2 separate regions of the Homo sapiens genome follow, and region 2 is linked to region 1. A link means that fine-mapping ties the variant in region 1 to the expression of a gene that starts in the linked region. Tissue or cell type: lung. Region 1 holds a variant in brackets; the other region holds the start of a gene. All regions are shown on one strand. Distances are from middle to middle.

Region 1 (10,165 bases):
GCGTTTGACTCTTGGAGATTTAAATAAAACAAACATTGAGAGAGCTTATGAACTCTGGGATGTGGAGTGGTGGCGCTGTCATTTGGGCCGAGTGTCCTGTCCTGTTTCCTAACCCCTGCCTCGAAGGCTCCATTCATTTCTGCCCCAGCCTGACCCCCAGAAGCATCTACTGATCTTAGCATTGGGCTAAAAGCTAAGGCCAGCCCTTGCCAGCCACTTTTGTCCACTCTCCTCCCCCGACCTGGGCCACTGCGTCTTCTAAACACTCTTGGGTCATTCTTGCACAAGGACCCAGTCTTCTTCCTCCCCGTCCCTTGGGGCCTGAATCCTCAAACCCTGTCTGGCCCAGGCCAACCTCTTCCGTGGGGCTTTCCTGCCTGCTCCACCAACCAACCCCGTGGTCCTGGACAGCTCCCTTCCCTCTCTGTTTCCTCGTGGGTACAACGCCAATCATGTCTTTCTCCCGGTTGTGGCGTGGGTTACGTGAGGTGACGTCTGTAAAGTACTGAGCCTGTGGAGAACACTAAAAATAAAAGCTAGCTCTTATTGCTCTTACTATTAGATTTTTCTCCTTCCCCGTTGCCTGCTTTAACCCTGAACTGTGGGTGCAGGGACTGGGGGAATAGGTGGGAGGAAGGCTAGAGATACCGGGCCCCTCCCATCTCCACTGTGGGTCTTACCTTTGCCCGTTGCACACAGTGTTCCGTCTTCCGGGATCCCAGTGTCATCTGGTGGCATCCCTCCTTCCCTCTTTTGGTCTCCATTTCCATGTTGTTTCTCCAGAGAGATTCTATGACCACTTCCAAAAAAAACTGGGCGGGGGGCTTTCGGCTGAGCTCACAGCCCCATTATGACATCGTAGTACTGAAGCTGTTCAGTATCGATTCTCAGATCTCCCCACTCATTCTTTGCTGGAAGGTGATGACGGAGTCTTACTTGACTGACAATTTTCATTAAAGAGCCGAGGCTGGAACTAGGAGAACAGAGGCTCAGCCTGCCCCTGGCTCCAAACTTTGCACCTTGGGATCCCTGGCTCTCTGGGAAGAGTGAAACTGCCCTTCAGAGGTCCATGGCTCTGGGAGAGGGCCAGCCAGGCCTGTTGCCAGTGGCAGTGACTGCCCCTCCTTCTGGCACCTTCTCTGAGTCCCTGTCCTGAACTAGCACTAGTGCAGAGGAAACAGATCTCCCCGCTCTGAGGTTGGGGGGGTCCCTGCCTGGCCCTGCATAGGTGAGGTGCTCTCAGTGACTCACCAGGAGGGTTTGCTCTCCAGCAGCCTGGAGCTCCTTCATGTTCTCTGTTTGCTCCTCTCTCTCAAGTCTCCATGTGGTGGCCTGTGCAGTCCCTTCTGTGGGATCCTTCCCTTCCCCTAGCTTTTTCCTACTTACCTGTTGATAGCGACCATAAACAATGCTAACAACGGGTACCACTTAGGCAGCTACCACAAGGACCCTGGCACTTTGTTGTAAGGAATTAACCCCTTTTGCAGACGCAGAAACTAAGGCTCAGAGAGGAGGGAGGGATTTGCCTAAGCTCACAGAGTTAGGGTGTAAAGCTCAGACATCCGGATGTGAAGTCGGGGACAGACACTGTCGCTCTGCTAATGAGGCAGCTGGTGTGTCCTTACATCATGACCCCCCCAGGCCAGGTAGGGTGACCCCAACATGGCCACCGCTTGTCTCCCTGCCTTGTAATTACCCCTCTGATGCCTCCCATCCACTCAGGGTCTGTCACTGCCCCAGCATCTAGCACAGGGCCTGGCCTGGCACATAGTTGGTGTTTAATCTGTCATGCCGTCCCCAGTGGTTGGAGTGCTGACGGAGGCACATCGCAGTTGTCAGTTCCCATGGCGACTGACATCACTATGCTCTCAGGCTGTACCCCGCCCCTTTCTCCAGGGCTCTTGCGCCGGGAGCTGGCCGTGGTGCTGACAGGCCCAGGAATGGCCACCTACCCCCAGACCCCAGCTGTGTGTCCCAGTAGGACACTTCCTGAGGCCCACCCTGCCCCAACTCCCTAGGACAGCCTCTTGCCCATCCTTTGTTCAGGAGACGTTTTCCTGAGGGCCCTGTGCTCAGGCACTGCTGTAGCACCGTGAACCCATAGAGGAAGGATCAAGGAGAGCCACATGGGACTCCAGTCATTTGACGATTCATCAAACATTTATTATGTACCTTGTATGTCTTGGAGAAGCCCTCAGGAACCCGGACTCCAATTGAAGGTCGAGTTGAGTTTTAAGGGGTAGAGAGCCAGAAAGGGCTTTTGAGCAGTCCTTCTGCTCAAAAGTCCTTCCTGGCTCTTGGGATTGCATGGGCCAAAGCCTGCAAGTGTGCAGGTGAGAGTCTTGTGCAGAGGGAAGCCCACCTCAGGACTCTGGCTGCCAGCCAGAATTGGTGATTGTCACTTTACTTTTTGGTCTCCCCTTTGGCTCAGAACTGCCAGCATCTCTGGCTCTAGTGCCCAGCCCAGAACCAGGCACAATGGAGGGGTGTTGGAGCCAGGCAGGGGACTGGCATCTTTGTCCTAGAAACCAAAGAGCCAGGTATGCTCTGTGACAAGATTTGCAGCATTTTAGAGAGCCCCTGGCCTGCTGGGGTGGGGACAGATACAGTGGTAATTCTGGCAGAAGATGAGGCCTCCTATTCAAGGGGACAGTACCTCCCCAGCCCCCAACCTTAAAAAAAAAAAAAAAAGGTAAAAATCCCCTTCTGGTGCTGAGGCCCAAATGGCAGTGGGAAATAATCACTTTTCACAGGCCCCTTATCCACAGCCAAGCCCTGTGCCAGTTTAATCAGCAGTGCCGGTGTGACTTGAAGAATCCCCGGCTTGAGAGATCAGGAGAGGGGTTAAAGAAAATTACCCTCGCCTCCTCCATGCTAATGTAATCTCTAACCAGATCTGCCTAGCCGCAGCTCAAATTGCTTTTTAGATTAACATTTAATTATTAACAGGGTCCCTTGGAAGGCCTCCGGCTCAGAACAGAGATGGGGGAGGGAGCGGCAGGAGGGAGGTGGGGATGGGCTTCTACTCTGGCTGCCTTGCTGAGACAAGCGGGGTGGGAGAGAGAGGAAGGAGCAAGGGAAGAGGGGTCAGGAAGGGAGAAAGAGAGAGAGACAGCAGGAAGGAGAAGGGAGGCATCAGGACAGGAGGCAGGTGGAGCTAAGGACAGGGATGTAGACAGAGGAGAGGAAAGAGACAGACAGTGGATCTTCCTGTCGTGGGAGCCCCTAAGGGGGTTGGGGGAAGCTTGCACCTAGATTCCTGAGGACATTCCTGGGCTGGGCAAGGGTCCCTCCACTCTTCCTGGCCAGAAGCAGGTTTGCTGCCCCTCATTATTTAGAGAGGTCTGGACTTTCTGAGGCTTTCTACTTGCTCAGCTCGTGGTGCTGGGGACCAACACAGAGAAGTGACCCATTTAGGGCCACACCACCAGGGTCTGACCCTAGTATTCCCAATCCAGCATTCATTCTCTTCCCCGGGCCCTGGGCCTCTCACCACCATTTCAGGCTCCTATCTGCCTTTGGAGCAGGCTGTGTGGCCAGGCAGCGTGAAGAGACTTGAATTACAGCCAGAGGGATGGAGGTGAGAACTGTGGGAGGGCTCCCTCACCACCCACCTATCCTGCCACCACCCCCAGGAAGGCTGCGAGGCCCTGAGGAGTGGCCAGCATCTCATTCACTTCCTGAAAGGGAATTCAGAGTCTGAACCATCTACTCTACTCCTTGCATGATGAACTGCTGGGTTTTGCCAGCTTCCTATCTTGTCCCTGCTCGAGATTCTAAGTCCCTCAAAGACAATGGCTACGTCTAGAGCCCCTTTGTGTGCCCACAGTTCAGGGACTGCCCCACACCTTGTACACAGCTGGATTAAGTTTGGAAACCAAATGATCACATCCTCTTATGTCCAAGTTAGATGGCCCTCATACTATCAGCTGGTCCACTCCCCATAAAGGTTCATTTGGGAAACAGACTCAGAGAGGTGCTGTGACTTCCTCCAGGTCACCCAGCCAGTGAGAACCCCAGTGCCTGGCCCCTGCCTGGCAGGTACAACCCAGAGGCCTCTGGGGCCAGCTCTCTTCTCTGAACTAGTCCTGTTGGACACCAGGAAGGGCCTGGCATGACCTTCCCCTCCAGGTCACAGCTAGGCTTTGGCCTTGAATGGAGCCACAGAAGCCAGGTGGGTAGCTCTAGGGATTGGAGGTAGAGGAGGAGATGGGGGCTCAGAGGCGCAGCCCATGGCTTTCCCGGGGTCACAATCTCAGGGCCCTGCCGTGAAGCCAGGTGTGTCCTCCTCCTATTCTGCCTTGGGGTCAACCCAGCCTGGCAAGGGGCAGACTGCTGACCTGTGGACACGAGGGAAAGTTCCAGATGCCTGCCACATCAGGAAAATGCTGGAGGCAGAGAGAGGTCAGGAACATTCATTTTTATTGGGAGGTCAGTTCTGGCTAGATGTTCCTTTCTGGCAGGACACTTTGAGTCATTTCCGTCCTCCCAGTACATGGCACAGGGCTGGCCCTCAAAAGATGCTTGGGAAGTGTTTGCTGCCTAAATGAATGAATGGGTGGGTAAGAAGCAAGGCCTGGGCTTTACTCATCTCAGTGTTGTTCTGCCCAATGCTGGCCTCCTGATTTGCGCTCCTTGAATGTTTATGGGATGAATAAGTGGCCTCTGGGAGCCCTTCCCCTCCTCTCACCCCTTCCTTCTGTGATCCCAGCCCCTCCCACAGTAGAATCAAAATGGATTTGGGCCCTGGGGAGAAGCAGACCCTTGCTTCCATCCCTCCCTGCCCAGTTGACTGGGAGCTGAGGGCTGACGGGCCCCCAACCACGATGGAGCTGCTGTACAGTGTGGGGCTGAGGGACTGACTGGCATTGGCATCCTTGGGCTCTGCTATCTAAAAGCTATGTGACCTTGCACAGATGGCCTTCCCTCTTTGTGGCCATTTCCTAAGCTGTGAAATGGAGCCACAGAGGCCACGAGGAGGAGGCGCATGGGCTTGGTACAGAGGGCAGTCAATACATGCTCACCACCGTTAAGAGCCCAAATTGCATGTTGCTCTTTCAGAGCTTCCCCTCCCACTGGCCCGTGGGCTCCCTGACGCCCCCTGCAGCCAGACAGGCGAGGGCGAGATGACAAAAGGCAAGCAGGGCCCAAGCCCCCAAATCCCTGTTCTTTTCATAAAAACAGAGACAGCCTCCTCCCATTCATTGTTCTGCTAAGGCGAGCATCACAGACTCAATTCCTCCTCGGACCTGAAAAGTTCCTTCCTTCCTTTCCCCTCCCCTGTCACATTTCCTTTATCTAAATCCTCAGCTATGAAAGGACACATCGACAGCTGGGGGCGTTATCTGGTGGAGGGGACCTTTTCCTCGGGTGTCTCCGAGATAAGGCGTCTTATCAGCCCCCATGTCAGGGAAGGTGCCAAGCATTCTAATCATTGAGGCATGCGACGTTTTTCCCCTCCCTGCCCCCCCTTTTTTTATTAAAGTCACAAAAGACCTTGAGCTTATAAACAGTCTGATTTGCAGATAGGGTTTCAAAATGAACA[G/A]TGCTCCCTGGATGGTGCTTGGCCAGGGGGGTAATGAGTCCAGGCGGGGACTCTGAGAGGCTGGCCTCCTGCAGATGGGATGATGCCAGGCAGGGAGGGGGCAAGATGGGGTCACAGAAAGAACATGAGTGTTTTAGGCACATGCCCCAGTCCTGTCCCTGCCTTGCTGTGTGACCTTGTTTGGGACGCTTGGCTTCTCTGGGCCTAGATCACTTTATCTGACAATAACCAATTCATTGATTCGGCCATTCATTCAACACCTATCTAGTAAATGATTACTCTTGCCAGGCACTGGGGAGAGACAGACAAATAAGACACGGTCCCTACCCCTAAGAAACACAGTCCAGCGGAGGGAGAGAGATGTGAAAATTGGCAATTACACCTTGGTGTGATTAGAGCAGAGATGGTGGATATCTAGAGGAAGGGAAGGGTGAGCCAGGGTCTGAAGACAGATCTGAGTTCGAACGGATCAGGGTCACGGTGCCGTAGGCAGGAGAACCAGCAGGGGCAGAGGTCTGGAGGTGTGAGGCAGCCTGGCTGGAAGGAGGGCCAGGGGGAGCCAAGAGGGAGATGAGGTGTGGTGGGCAAAGAGGGCTGGGCTCCACGCCGGGGCCAGAGAGGTTTTAAGGCCAAGGAGGGGGATTTGACCGTCTTGGTTGCAGATGATGGGGATGATGCAGGAGTTGGAGGTGGTGGTCCCCTCCCCACTTCCCTCCTAGGACACCCCACCACCCTGCCATGTGCCCCCAGTGGCAGGACACAGGGTTCCTGGGAGAATGGGCAGTGAGTTGGGAGAACTGGGGTTGCAGAGAGAAAAAAGTCCCTCCTCTTTAAGTGAAGAGCATCTCTCAGGCTGCCTGTAGCCCTCCAGAAGCAAGGAATGGGAGGATGTAGGCAGCTGCCCTGGCAAAGCTGAGCCAAAGCTGAGGCCTACACTTGGACACCATCACACCCTGAAAACCCCTCCCAGCTCCCAGAACTGCCTGGCATCCACCATAAGAGCACGCTGACAACTAGAGCCCTGCTGGGAAGGGAGCTGATGGGGTCCCAGGAGGCTCCAGAATAGGCGACCTGCCCCTTCCCCAACAATTGCAGCCCCCAGCCCACCCTTTTTCAACTGCAAAGCATGTGGGATGTATGGCCCAAGGGACATTAGGGCACCTAGAGAAGGGCTGGACTTCTGGACCCCAGTAAAAGGCTGGAGATAGGGCCGGGCATGGCCAGGACTCTGGAAGAAAGTGACCTGGAGGTACCCACAGGGATCATGGAGCCACTGTTACAGGCCAGAGAGGGTCATTAACCCAGCCGGGGTCACACAGGGTGTGCTGGGAGGCAAGGAGGTTCCAGCCTTCCAGCCCAGGTTTCCACAGGGCACCAGCCTCTGACCTCCCTCCTTACTGGCCTGGGTGCAGCCAAGCTCAGTGGTGAGGGGGTAAGTGCACCCAGCCACTCCCTGCCTGGCAGGCCACTGCTCCCTGTGGCTTGGGTTTCCCATTTGTGGAGGGAGAGGTCTTGGACTGGCTTTCTCCGGATCTCCCTCCTTTCCCCCAACCCCTATGTCAGAGCGGCTAGAGATGGACTCTGCCCTGGAGCAGGGGCCACAGAAAGAGGCTGGGGCAGGGTGAGGGAGGTTGCCACAGGCCTCTTACCTTCCAGATTGCACATGATTGTGAGTCTCCATAGACCATCCGACTGTGCGTAAGAGGGTGCCTGTAAGTGCAGAGGAACATGCCATGCAGCAAACACATATGTACATAGGTGAGTGTGTACCAGGGTGTGTGTGCACACCCAGCCCTCCCTGTGCACATGCACGGCGTGTCCTCCAGGGCTGGTGTCCAAGGCTGTGGTGATGGCAGGCCCGAGTCAGGCCTGCTCCCGCCACCTGCTCACATTCCAAGTCCCCGAGGAGAGGAGCAGCACTGCCTTCCTGCAGTCAAGGACTTTCATCCCTGCAATAAGCCCCACTTCATTCCCTTTTTAAACTGTATAATTTCTGCCTGATTGTAATGGCCTATTTTAAAATTACCAGAAATCAAAGCCGGGAAGTGGATACTGCAGCTTTTATTGCGTCTCTGTGTTAAGGCTGGCGATTGGGGAGGGGGCGGTGAGAATCACCTCCCCTCCCCTCCATCCTCCACTCTCTCTCTCTCTCGCTCTTTTTTTTTTTTTCTTGAGACAGTAATAGGAGAAAATTGGTTTTGAAACTGAATAAAAGTCCCTTTCAGAGGAAATCATTTCTTTCAGGGTACCTTTGCTGAAAGTAAAATAGGGCATAATGAAAGGTGGTTACGCGATTGTCTTTCATTTACCGAGAGGCCAGGACAGACGGGAGGCTGCAACCGTCTCCGGGAAATACAAGATTGGAATAATTGCGCCGTAACAAGGAGCTTGTTGTGAAATTAGTATCTTAAGAAAGTAGTGAAAAAAGGCTTTTCCTCATGAATACTTCATTATTAGAAGAAAGCGGCAGAATTTAGGACTCCAGACACCTGTTTAGTATTAAATAACTTCCCTTTCTTCCCCTTCAACACCCCCTCTGCTTTCTTCTTCTTTTTTAAAACCAACATGAAGATTGAGGTGATCCAGCTTGGCTGCTCAGGACTGTGGGAGGTCAGGAAGTGGTGGGGACAGGGTGCCCGGGAAGATGGACATCAGGGGTGTCCGGGGTTGAGCTCACCCTGAGACCTGCCTTCTCCTTAGCAAGAAGGGAGGAAGGGACCTCTAGGTAAGCTCCCACCGCCACCCTCCCATTGGGGCCTCACAGGCAGGCCCACTCTGACCCTGCCAGTCAGGGGCTTTGGGCTCTCAGGAATGTGCCTGGGCCTCCTGAAACGTTCTCTGCAGGAGAGTGGGTTTGGGGAAGCTGAAGGCAAGTGTCTGTGTGAATGTCAGGCTCTGGCCGTTGGGGAAGGTACCACACGGGCCTGTGTGCAGCCACATCTGAGCTGCTGCCCTGCGGGGCACAGATCTCTGCCCTTCCCATTCAGGGTAAGGAGCTCAGGCAGCGACAGGGATCTCGGGTCAGGGCAGCCTTGATGGCCCATTGGGGCTGGGCTCAGGGTGCAGCATGGATCAAGGTTCAAGAGCCCCTTGTTCTCTCAGGAAAGCCATCCTGACATCTCCCCTCCAGGGGGGCTATGAGGATGCCCTGGGCGGGAGACAGACCAGTACTTCAGTAACCTGGGACACCCATGTACCCACTGGCATTTCCCGAGCACCCCTCTGTGTAGATGCCCAAGATGACCAAGTGGGGTCTTCAGGCTGACTTGCTTACAGGGGGCCACCACCGGCCGGAAGCACAGCCTGCTGCGGGGCACGGAGGGAGTGAGGATCTCACCCAGTTGGGGGCATCAGGGCAGGCCCCAGAGCAGATGACCCAGATGCCGAGCAGGGCCGGGGCATGTGTGATCCATCAGTCCAGCCCCCACTCAAGAGCCCTGGATTCTGTCCCTTCCCATGAGGCCACAGATGGGCCTCTTGATGCCTCAGGCCTTGGTCCCCTCATTGGTCGAATAAGGGAAATGGGTGTCTGCTTTGAGAGTCTCTGATGTTCTTCGGGGTTGCAGGGAGACTCCCGGGGGGAATGGTGGGAGGCGAACACGGAGCAGCCCCCAAGTGACAGAGCACCCCATCTTCCTCCTGCAGGGACCCAGTCGCAGAGCGCACCCCACTGGGGACCCCCAGCTCAGCCATGCTGGCCTGTCTGCAGAGGACCCAGAACGCCCCGGGCCAACACCTGGCCTGCCCGAGCAAGAGCCTGGAGCTGCGCAAGTGTGAGTAGGACGCCTCCCCAGCCTTTGCAGGGCAGGTCGTGGGCAGAGAACGCCATTCACCCCCCAGGATGTCCACCTACCATGGCCCTGTCGGAAAGTCTCTATGCTCTCTTAGGCCCCCAGGCCTTGGCCCCGGCTGTGCTGCCTTCCTGGTCTCCATCCCCAAAATGACACCCACTCCTTTGGCCAGCTCCTGTGGAGCAAGACTCTCAACTCTGGCTTGACCTCCTTCCCAGCAGCCTCTTCTGACCACCACCATCGCCATGCCCCAACCCCGCCTCTGCAACTTCACCACCATTATCTAGCCATGTGTGTCTCCCTTACCACCATTAAAGTAGGATGACGTGGAAGCAAAAAATAGACAGAATGGGGTCCCCGCTTGAGGCCCATGAGCTGTGTGGTCTTGGGTGTTTCCTTCCCTCTCTGGCCTTGCTTTTTCACTGGGACCTAGACCTGGTGACCAGGGGTCTGTTCTCACTATCTAGGACCAGGATCTGAAACGCTCTGATTTGGTTATTTTTAGCTATCATAATTTCTTTTTTAATGAAGTACTTAGAAACGGAGATTTGCATTAAAATATGGATTTCTACTATCTCTTGAAAAAAACAAAAACAGAGGCTCTGGTAACATAGGCCTGTGTGCCTGTATTGCAGCTATGGTTAGAGCTGAATGACTGCCTCTTTTAAAGGGATGTCTGTCTCCAGGTCACCGCGGTCCCCACCCCTCCCTATTGCTTCTGTGCTATAGCCCAGGATCCGTTGCCATTTAGCATGATGCTTACAATGTGAAAATATTTTTTTTCTTTTAAATATTTATCTTTAGACAAGGGAACATATTCATGTTATGC
Region 2 (10,165 bases), 26 kb before region 1:
GGCAGAAGGAACGGCTTGGGTCAAGGCCTTGAGGTGGGAAATAGTTTGGCACCTTCAAGTAACCAAGAGGAGACTAAAGTGGCCAGAAGGGAGTGAGGGTGGGATATAGTCAGGGAGATGGGCAGGGTTCGGTTCCTGAGGCCACTTGGACTTCTTCAGCCCTACACATAGCTCACCCCCTCCTCCTTGCCCCACTAGGCCTGCCCCAGAGAGAGACTCAGGTACTGGGGGGCGGGGCTGGGTGAATAACAAGGTTACATGTGTTTCTTCTTTCCCCGTTTCTCCAGGAGGAGCATAAAGAGCTCTTTCTTTTCTGCTTATTAATAGCTCTGATTAAATTATCTCTGAAAAACCTACGTGGCGTGCACCAATGGGGGCTGGGCTCCCTCCGGGCTCTGGCCTAGATCACAGCAATGAGGGCAGGTGAGGCAACTGGGGGTGGGGTGGGAGGCTGGAGCAGGCCTGCCCCCTCTGCCTGCATAAATGCCCCGTCTCTGCCTGCTCCCCTCTCCCCAGCCCCAGCTCAGCCTCTCACCCACCTCTGCTTTTGGGGCGTTCACATCTCCCTCACTTGGAACACTAGGCCTTTGCATTGGTTGTTCCCTCTTCCGGGGGCGCTCTTCCCTCACCTCTGCCCTTGGCTACCTCCTACCCATTTTTCCCAGGGTAGCTGACTTGCCTTTTTACCATCACTGGCCCTCCGCTGAGTCAGGTGCCTGCTTCGGACTGTCCCCTCTACTGGTACCCTGGATGACACCTGTTAGTTGCCTTCTCTGTGCCCCATGAAACCTGAGTTCCAAGAGGCCTATGTCTTGGTCTGAGTCACTGCTGAATTCCCAGTGTCAAGCACAGGGCAGGTACTTAGAAAATGTTGAATGAATGAGGGAATTAGCAGACTTAAAGGGGGAATGCTCAGGCTTCAGTGCGTGAGACCAGAGAAGGGCAAGGCAAAGATGGACCAGGTGGCTCACGTCTGTAATCCGAGTACTTTTGGAGGCCGAGGTGGGAGGATCACTTGAGCCCAGGAGTTTGAGACCATCCTGGGCAAAATAGCAAAAGCCCGTCTCTTCAACAAATTTAAAAATTAGTTGGGCATGGGGGCATGCACCTTGTAGTCCTAGCTACTCAGGAAGCTAAAGTGGGAGGATCACTTGAGCCCAGGAGTTCAAGGTTGCAGTGAACTATGATGGTGCCACTGCACTCCAGCCTGGTGACAGAGTGAGACTTTGTCTCTAAAAAACAAAAAAACAAAAAAACAGAGAAGAGCAAGACTAGCCTTACATACGTGGGAGGGTGGGAACAAAAGTTCCAGCCTCCAGGCCCCTTGAGTGATGCCTTGATTAATTGAAATGGCAATTAATCCCATTTCAAAGATGGGGGAAACTGAGGCACAGAGCGGCTGAGTCATATGGCTAGTAGCCCAGTCAGCCTGACTCTACTCCCTTCTCTTAATTCTCCTCCTCTACGTGAAAACAAAACAAAACAAAAACTTGGGCCACATTCATTCAGTGATTCAGAGATTAAGTCAACAGACCTTCATTGAGTGCTGACTCTATGTCAGGCCTGTGCTAGGGAATAAAATGAACTGAATGCAGCCTTTGCCCTGGAAAAGCCCTCAGGCCAGTGGGAAGCCTGACAAAGAAGTGGGCCATTATAACACACACTGGACACATCTGTGAAGGGGGAAGTGCTCCAGCCTGGAGCAGGGTAGTCAGGGAAGGCTTCCTGGAGGAGGCAGCACTTTGGCTGAACTCTGAAGGAGGAGCAAGAGTTAGCTACCTGGAGGGAGGGCATTCTAGGTAGAAGGAACAGCATAAGCAATGACCTGGAGGTGAGAGAGGCACGTGCAAGGATTTGTAGGTATTTCAGCAAGGTTGGTGTGTGGGAGGCAAACAAGAACAGTGAGAGATGAGATGCCCTCTGCCCCCTGCCCCCTCAGGGCCTGTCGGACCCCTGGCCAGAGCCAGTGTTCCGGGGCTGGCCTGCCTGGTGGTTTTATGGACCGTGGCAAATCCATCTTGACACTGTCTCCAATCACATAATGCAGTTATTGGAGTCGACCAAGAGCAAAGGCACGAGGGTCTGATCTCAGGGAGATGGGCATATGGGGTAGGGGGGCACTGGGAGTGTGGGGAGTGGGGCAGAGCATCTTACGGGGCATTCACCTGCCTGGAGGGGAGCGACAGGCATCTGGAAGGCTCTGACCTCTCCTGCTGGACAGCTGCCTTGGAGCCTGCTGCTGTCGGAAATTCCACCATGAGCACATCGTGGACTCATAGAACTTCAGAGATGGAGGGGTCTTTTGAGATCTTCTCGACCTGGGGTTGTCAGCCCTGGCTGTATCAGGAACCACATAGGAGCTTTGGAAACTGCTGTCCCACCAAGGAGAGTCTGATTGGTAGGGCTGGGGTTTGGGTCCTACCCTCCATTTCATGGCAGGGGAAACTGAGGTCCAGAGAAGAGAAGAAACTCCCCTCAAGGTTGCACACGGTCAGACAGTGGCTGCCACAAGGTGCAATAAATCAACGTCAGGGCTCTGGACTTTGGTTCTGTCATTTGTGTGACCTTGGGTAAGTCATGTGGCCTTCCTCTGCTGTAGGATGTGCATAGTGATCGTATATACCTTATAGGGTTTCTGCGAGGGTAAAAGGAGTTATGTGAGATAAATAGCAGTGAGCCCATGCCTGACACACAGTAGGTGTGAAGTCATGGTGACCTACAATGAAAAAAATCCCAAACTTTTGACAGGCTGTGGTGCGAACTGCTGCCTTCTTCTCCTCTTCGCGATCTCTCTCATTTCCCAGGGTTTGCTTGTTACTGTCCCTCGCCCTGTCCTCAGCTGAAGTCTGGTCTCCCCACCTGTCCACACGCTGGGTCCACCCATCCAGTCGCCCCGGCCGCCCTCCCTGACGTCCCCGCAGCCCTGGCTGCTGGCCCGAGCGGGAAGCAGCTGGAGGCATAACACATTTCCAGGTAAATCCCCACCCCCACCTTCAGCCTGGGGAGGGAAGGGGAGGAGATGGGGGCGGCCGCGGAGAAATAGAGCGGAGCTGCTGGGAACAGCGCGCCGAGCAGCCGCTTAGAGGCCTGAAACAGGGCCAGCTCCTGTCCTAGATAAGGCGGCGGGTGACCCACTTGGGCCGGCCCTGGAGGTCCGCCGCGGGCGCCTCTCCCGGCGGGGTGGGTTGGCTCCTGGAAGTAGGCTAGGGCCCGTCTATAATCAGCCCGTCCGCTGGATACGCTCCCCAGGGTCTCCAAAGCCCTCCAGCCCGGGTGAGTACAGAGGGCATTTATTGAGCACTTAATGTGTGTTTTGAGTCCTTTACATGCAAGAATTCATTTTGCCCTCAAATCTACGCTGTAAGGTAGGAATTATGATGCCCCCCATTTCACAGACAAGAAACTGAGGCGCAGACCCGTGAAGGTAAATGGCCAAGACCAACAACCAGCAAGGGCAGGGCTGCAATCCCACCCAGTTTCGGTGGGACTCCAGGTATCACACGGGCATAGCCTGAGGGGTGGGGGGTCTGACTGCTGCTCTGCATTTCTGTGGGGATCTTTGTTATTATCCCGGAAAGCTGGCTTCCTACAGTGCTGTGTGATGGACACACAGCAACTGAGGGAACTGCCCCACCCAGGACTCAATTTCCCCATCTGTAAATGAGACTGCTAGACGGGCCGCCCATGGGCTGTGAGAACCCAGGAAGCTTCTTTAAAAGTAAAAGGGAAAGCACAGTATAGTTTGATAGATTCATATTTGAACCCCAGGTTGATGTGAAACTATGCCTCAGTTTCCCTATCTATTAAGTGGGGGAGTAGGCTAGTGCCTGTCTCCTGTGGGCGTGGGGTACGTCTAGAAGGTGTAGCTTGCAAATTGCTCAGCGCTGTGCTGGGTTATATAGTTAGCGCTCCACAGATCACAACTGTGATGCCAAAAACACATCGCTGCCAAAAATAAGCCTTAGGACAAAAACATCCAGGACCATGTCACTTCACATCTCCTTACCTCAGTTTCCTCTGTAAGTTGGAAGTATAATAATAGTACCTACCGTATCAGTTTTCTCATCTGTAAAATGGGGGTGATAGTAATACCCACTCACACGGTGTTGTGAGGATTAGATAAAATACTTTGCTACATAAGTGTTAGCTATAGTTGTTATTTTTAACAAATTCCTCATGAGGTTGGTTTTTGCCAAGATTAAATGAAATAATGCCGATAATGCACTTATACAGTGCCTTGTCCCAAATATGTGATCAGTAAATGACACTGGTTTTGCCACCCCTAGTGGGACTACAAAAACCAGCACGCCCTGCGCCCCCAGTCGGGGCCCCTCCACCCGGCGCCGGCGCGCAGCATGCCGGGAGTTGCAGTCCTCGCGAGGCAAGTTCCGCCTCGTCCCTGCTTGGGGGAGGAGGTTGGAGAGCCGCCCTGCCGGCCTTTGAATTTTGCCGCGAAAAGCGCGCGTGGCGGCCCCCGGCTCCGCCCCTCGCAGGACGCGGTGCCGCGTCACCCTGGTAACCGCCTCTCAGCCGCCGCTGATTGGGCTGGGCCGCGGGGGGCGGGCGGGGGACGAGACGCGGGGGCTGCTGCCGGCGCTCGCGCCTGTCAGTCGGGCCAGAGCGGAGCAGCGGGCAGGACTGCCTGGCCGGCTGCTCCGCGGAGAGGCTGCGCGCGCCGGCCGGGGGAGGCGGACAGCCGGGCCCGGCGCCTGTGGGGCGCGGCGCGCGGCACCCGGGCCTGAGACCAGGCGAGGCGCCGGCGCGCGCCAGACGGCGCGAGGCTGCGGCCCCGGGAGCCCCCGCGCGCCGCCCGGGGCCATGGGCGCGTGAGAGCCCAGCGCGCGCGGCCCCTGCTGCGGCTTGCGAGCTCGCACACCCGGTGCACAGTCCCCCGGGCCGTCCTCGTGTCCGTCCTGCGCCACTGGGATCGGCTGTTTCTCAGCGCCGAGGCCCCCGAGGCTGCATCCGAGCTTGCGTCGCCCGCTGCCGCCGCCGCCGCCGCTGCCGCCGCCGCTGTTCGCCGGCTTCCCCTCCCCCCACACCCGGGGCTCAGAGCAGGAGGAGGAGGGGCCGGTGCATTCTCGCCGCTGTTCTTTGCAACCTGCAGGGGCCGGTGTATGTCCGGCGAGGAGCCGGGGCCGCTGCGGGTGCGTGCAACCCCCGAAGGAGACAATCCCTCCACCTCGGGGCGAACCCGGGGGCTGCAAGCCGCGGGCGGGCGGGCGAGCGAGAGGAAGCAACAAAGACAGGCTGCAGCTGGGGCTGGCGAAAGGGGCCGCGGCCGCCGGGCTCCCAGCGCGGGCGGAGAGGGCGCCCTGGGAGCGGCGCGGGCCGAGCTGCAGCCTTGAGCGGGGCCCCGAGGGGAGGCGCAGCGCCGCCCGCCGGACGTGGCGATCACGGGCCCCGGCGAAGATGCGTCGCCTGAGCGCCCGCGCGGCCCCCGTCCGGGGCGGGCGTGACCCCTGCTGAACGGAGACCTCCCCTCCCCCCCGACTTCGGACGGCGCAGGCCGGCGCCAGGATAGCCCTCACCGACAGCGCCCCTTCCCACCCGGAGAGAGGCATCGACCCCCAAGGAGGGCTTCGTCAGGCAGCCTCTGCCACTCCTGCATGGCTGCGACCCGTCGAGCGGAGCGTCGTGGTAGCTGAGACCTGGTGCCCTTCGACGGCCTGGCTGATCCGGTGAGTTGTGCGGGGCGGGGTTCTGCGCTGGAGCTGGGGGCACCCCCTGGCGTCCGGGCAGCCAGGATTGGACAGAAGGGGTCCTAGGCTGTTGGGGGTCCTGAAGCAGAGATAACCCTTGTCCGCCCCTTTCCTCCCTCCAAACACAACTTGTTCAGATGGGCCAGCCGATGGGAGTGGAGGTTGGGGGGCCCATTCGGATTCCGCGGGACCCTGGGCGGGTTGGTTGCCAGAGAGGAAAGGTCACCCCACCCGTAAAGCTAACAAAGGTATTGGCTGTGTCATCCGAAAATTCCCCGGGAACTCCAGTGTCTTGGAAGGGCTGGGGGGTGGGGGGCACCCAGGATGGGAAAACGTTGAGGGTCTCCCGAGCAGCCTCTGAGATCTTCAAGGGAAATCACCTCAGAGGGGGATTTGGGGTTCCAGAAACGCAGGTGGCCACGTTTGAGAATTGTGCCCCATGGGGCTAGACCTTAGAGCCCTCGTTCAAACCACGTTCCCACAAATAACTCGCAGGGACGGTAGGTTCCCCAGTGGGGGCACGACATGACGTCAAACCTTAGCCTCTGATGTCACTGGGGTTGCCGTGGCAACACCACTTGCCTTGACCCAAGGCCGGAGGGGGCGGGGTCGTGGTAACAAGGGGCGGGGCTGGATGCCTTTGGGTAGTGGAGGGGTGAAGGCGGACTCCCCCCACCCCTACCATTGCAGTCCTCTGACCTAAATCCTTAGCGCCCCATAAGGTGGGGGAGGGAGGCAGTGCCAGCTGTCCCTGTTGATGCTCCTCCCCGCAAGGACAGGTGTTCAGAGCTTTGCCCATGTAGCCTGGCCTGTGCCTCGGGGCTCAGGCCTCCCAGACAGAGCAACTTTCTGTTTTGAAAAGAGATGCTATAGAAGAGACCTCCCTGAACCCCACCATGTACCCAGCTGGCAGGCTGAAGTTCCCAGGGTCCCCAGAGAGATGTGGGCCTCCGGCCCTCCAATAGGCTACTTCTGCTGGGGAAAATGTGGGTGCCCCTCCCCCAGCCAAGGAAGGTGCAGAGGAGCTGCTGCCTGCTGCACCCCTAGTCCAGGGGCTCCCCATGCTGTTCTACCCCAAGGTCAGGGGCCTTGGCCAACCTGGAACTCCTGATTGCCCCCTGCTCCTTCTGGTGTTTAAGAGGATTTCAACGAGCATATTGTGAGGCTGCTTAAGTGAATGGCGGGCAAGTGAGGCCCATCAGTGCCAAGGTCTGAATAAACTGTGTCTCTGTCAGGGCACCCCCAACCAACACACACCCCAGTACTGGCACGCTTCCCTGCAAAGGCCCAGAGAACCCCCAGCAAGCATCCTGCTGCTGGCTCTGGGATTCGTCTAGGTCCCTTCCAGCAATTATTGCCAGTGTCGGGTGCTGGTGAAACTGCTGTGATCACATTTCTAGGAAAAGGTTCGAAAACTGTCATTGCCTCAGCAGCGTGGGGCGGGGTAAGAGCAGAGAAAGTGTGTGTTCGGGTCATTAGGAGAAGCCAGGCCCCAGTCTATGCAGCGAGCATTTTCCCTGCTCTTCTACCAAGCTCTCTAGCTAGATTAACAGGTCAATAAATATCGGTGGAGCTGCTTTTGGGGGCTTGGCAGGGAGATGGTATTTCCAGCTGAAATGGTGTCGTTAAACACACAAGCTTCCAAGGACAGAGGAGCAACAGCAGATTGGGGGAGAGCCGGGAGAGGTGGGCAGAAGGGCTGTTTGCGCTGCCTCTCGAAGCTTCCCAGTTTAGAAACAAACTCGGAGTGCGCGCCAGAGATTCACAAACACAGGCAGTTGGAGGCCCTCTGCCGAGTATTTACACTTCCACAGCCAAGGCAGAGGGAAAGGCTGTCAGAATTGGGCAATTCCTTCTGTTCCCTTCCCTCATCTCCCTGGGCTTGGCACTCAGCGTGCCAGACGATGAGCAGGAGGGAGTGCCAGCTTTCTCAGCATCTCCCTATATGCCAGGCGTTTTACATGATCTCAGTTACTCCTTGGAGTGGCTCATACGCTGTGGCCCATTTTATAGCTAATGAAACTGAGGCTTAAACAGAGGAAGTGATGGGCTACAGGTGATCAGCCAGGCAGCTGCAGAGGTTCGGTCCTGAATTGCCCTCCTGGCTCCAGAGTCCTTGTGTCTTACCACCTCCTCCCATGGGGTTTGGGGGACACTCCTACTTATTGGACAGGGGTCCCTGCAGGCATCAGAGGCTATCAGCCATGGAGGGGGAGTCTGGCCCCACCAAGATGCTTTGTCCACACCAAAAGGCAGATTTGAATCCTCTCTTCCTATGACCTACAGGTCAGCGTTGAGTAGATTAACAACTTCCGCCCGGCCTTGTGGTCTGTCTGGTCCCCTCACCCCCAGGACTCCTTTCTCCAGCACTAGGGGAAAGAAGGTGTAGCTTGAAACTCGCTCCTTGTCACCTGCCCTTCTGGGCTTGCTTGGAGGGAGGCGGTGAAGCTGCCCCTGGCCGCCCCAGGGACCTTCTTGGGATGTAGATGGAGCAAGGGCAAACTAGTAGATGAGGTTCCTGACCCAGCCTGAGGGTCAAAAAGCCCTAGAGGAGAGGTGGCACATGAGTCATGAAGAGGACAAATAGGAATGTGCCAGACAGGAGTGAGAAGACTGTTCTGGGTGGCCGGAGTGGCCCTGGAGCAGCCAGTGATGTGTGTGGGCCCTCGTGCCTGATGGGGAAAGGGGCAGCCGTGAGTGGCTGTGTCCTGGAGCCTTAGGTGGATAGGGAAGGTTTAAGCAGGGCAGAGGATCCATTGATCTCCTTTGACAAGGACAGTAACCCTGGACATCTCTTCCCGTAAGCGTGGAAGTGGCCACCTCGGTTCTGGGGGCAGTCTCCTCTCTTAAGGTTGGCCCCACCCCCACTAATCCTTCTCACTTATCTAATTCCTGTAAGCTCGTCCATCCCCTGTCCCTTCTGAGCCTTAGGGCTGCTCTGGACTAAACTGGGACTGGGCTGGACTGCTGAACCCCCTTGATGAGAAACTTGAGGCGCCCTGGTGATGGGCAGTGGCTCCTGATTAGGTGCCAGGCTCTGGCGTGGGTTGGGCCTGGATCGTACTCTCAGCCCGCCGCTTGCAGGCTGTGTGACCTCGGGTGAGTACCTTTGCCTCTCTGAGCCCCAGTTTACTCATCTGTGAGAAGGACCATAGCACTCACTGTGCAGGGTCTGGTGAGGATTCAGGGAGGGCCTAGCACAGCACACAGTATACAGTAAGCACTCAAACGCATGTTGTCATGGCTACTGTTACCTCCTCCTCAGAACGGAGCCTTGAATGACTCAGTCCCTTGGAGCCAAAGGTTGAAGACCCCATTTGCAGGGAGAGGCCCGAACTCTACCAGCTATCTCTGCCAGGGGCTTCTCTGTCCACTGAGGCCCCCACCCACCCACCCACATGGTGAGCACCGGTGGCTCTTTTCTGAGCTTCTGCGGGGGCTGGGACTTGGCCGGGGGTCCCTCCCCAACCTCCCTCCAGCCCCCTCTGCCTTCCCATCCCTCACAAACCGGAGGAAGGCAGCGAAGCAGCTCATATTCATGAACCGTAATTCAATCAGGCGGCGATTCCTCTGGGCTCGGGGCGGGGGTGAGAACGAGGAGGCGCGCACAAAAGGGCCGCTTTATTACCTCCCGCGGGCCGGGAATTGCTGCTCTCTCCCAGCAGCGGCCGGAGCCGCTTTATTGTGTTAACCCATTTGCGTGTCAAGAGCTATTGGGCGCTTTCTCTGCCTGTGCGTTGCGGGCCGCGGGAGGAGGGCTGCGGTGCCGGCCGGTCACCTCCGCGGGCGCCGCCCGCCGCCCTGATTGGTTGCTAAGTGATTTGCATCCAAGGTAATCACTTTTATCTCAGAAGGATGTCGACTATAATTATAAGCTACTGACATCTTTTGAAATCTGCCTAATGACTATTTTAGTCTGCACGGGCTGGGTGTAGGGAGGGAGATTCTGGAAAGGGTGGAGGCTGGGAAGAGGGATGGATTCCTTCCACCTGGACCCCTGATTGCTTAGTTGAGAAATATCTGAGTACCTACTGCATGCATCAAACAAAAGATGGGGTCTCTGTGATGGGGGGCTTGCATCCCTGTGGGCAGAGTTAGTGCCACTTCAGAGATGGGGAAACGGAGACCCTGGGGAAGGGGCGACCTGCCCAGACCACACAGCCAATGTGCAGCCACCATCTGGGTCTCTCTGACCCCAAATTCATGCCCTGACCACTCCAGTGGTCACAGTCAGGAATCATGTAATCATGCCTGGATACAGGTCACCAGACTAGTACCTTCCAGAGTTTACGTCATAACCCTAAGAAATGCACATGCTGGTACCACCCCCATTTTGCTGAGAAGCAGGGGCCCAGAGAAGGTATTATACTTTGCTGCCCGAGGTCACACAGCCAGGGAGTGGCAGAAGTATGAGGTTCATTGGCAGCCAGAGATGGGAAGGCAGAGGCGGGGTTCCAGCTTCC

What was found. PIP is the estimated chance that this variant, and not a neighbour inherited with it, causes the effect.
Region 2: it holds the start of FAM222A, and the variant in region 1 is fine-mapped to the expression of FAM222A in lung (TOPMed, PIP above 0.99).

What each region holds. Positions count from the first base shown.
Region 1 is chr12:109,734,911-109,745,075 of GRCh38, forward strand. It overlaps FAM222A (family with sequence similarity 222 member A), which reads left to right. Exons shown (of 3, transcript NM_032829.3): 2 at 9,191-9,318. The coding sequence starts at 9,237. FAM222A-AS1 (FAM222A antisense RNA 1) reads right to left here. Exons shown (of 3, transcript NR_026662.2): 2 at 681-911. Among named protein-coding and RNA genes, the nearest start is that of FAM222A, 26 kb to the left of the region's middle. RefSeq lists a silencer at 1,761-1,961, enhancers at 1,866-2,365, 2,869-3,013, 4,450-4,951, 4,952-5,451 and a cis regulatory region at 2,935-2,948. The variant G/A (reference allele first, on the strand shown) is at 5,546.
Region 2 is chr12:109,709,217-109,719,381 of GRCh38, forward strand. FAM222A (family with sequence similarity 222 member A) reads left to right here and starts at 4,609. Exons shown (of 3, transcript NM_032829.3): 1 at 4,609-5,681. RefSeq lists an enhancer at 3,071-3,634 and silencers at 4,340-4,669, 4,700-4,749.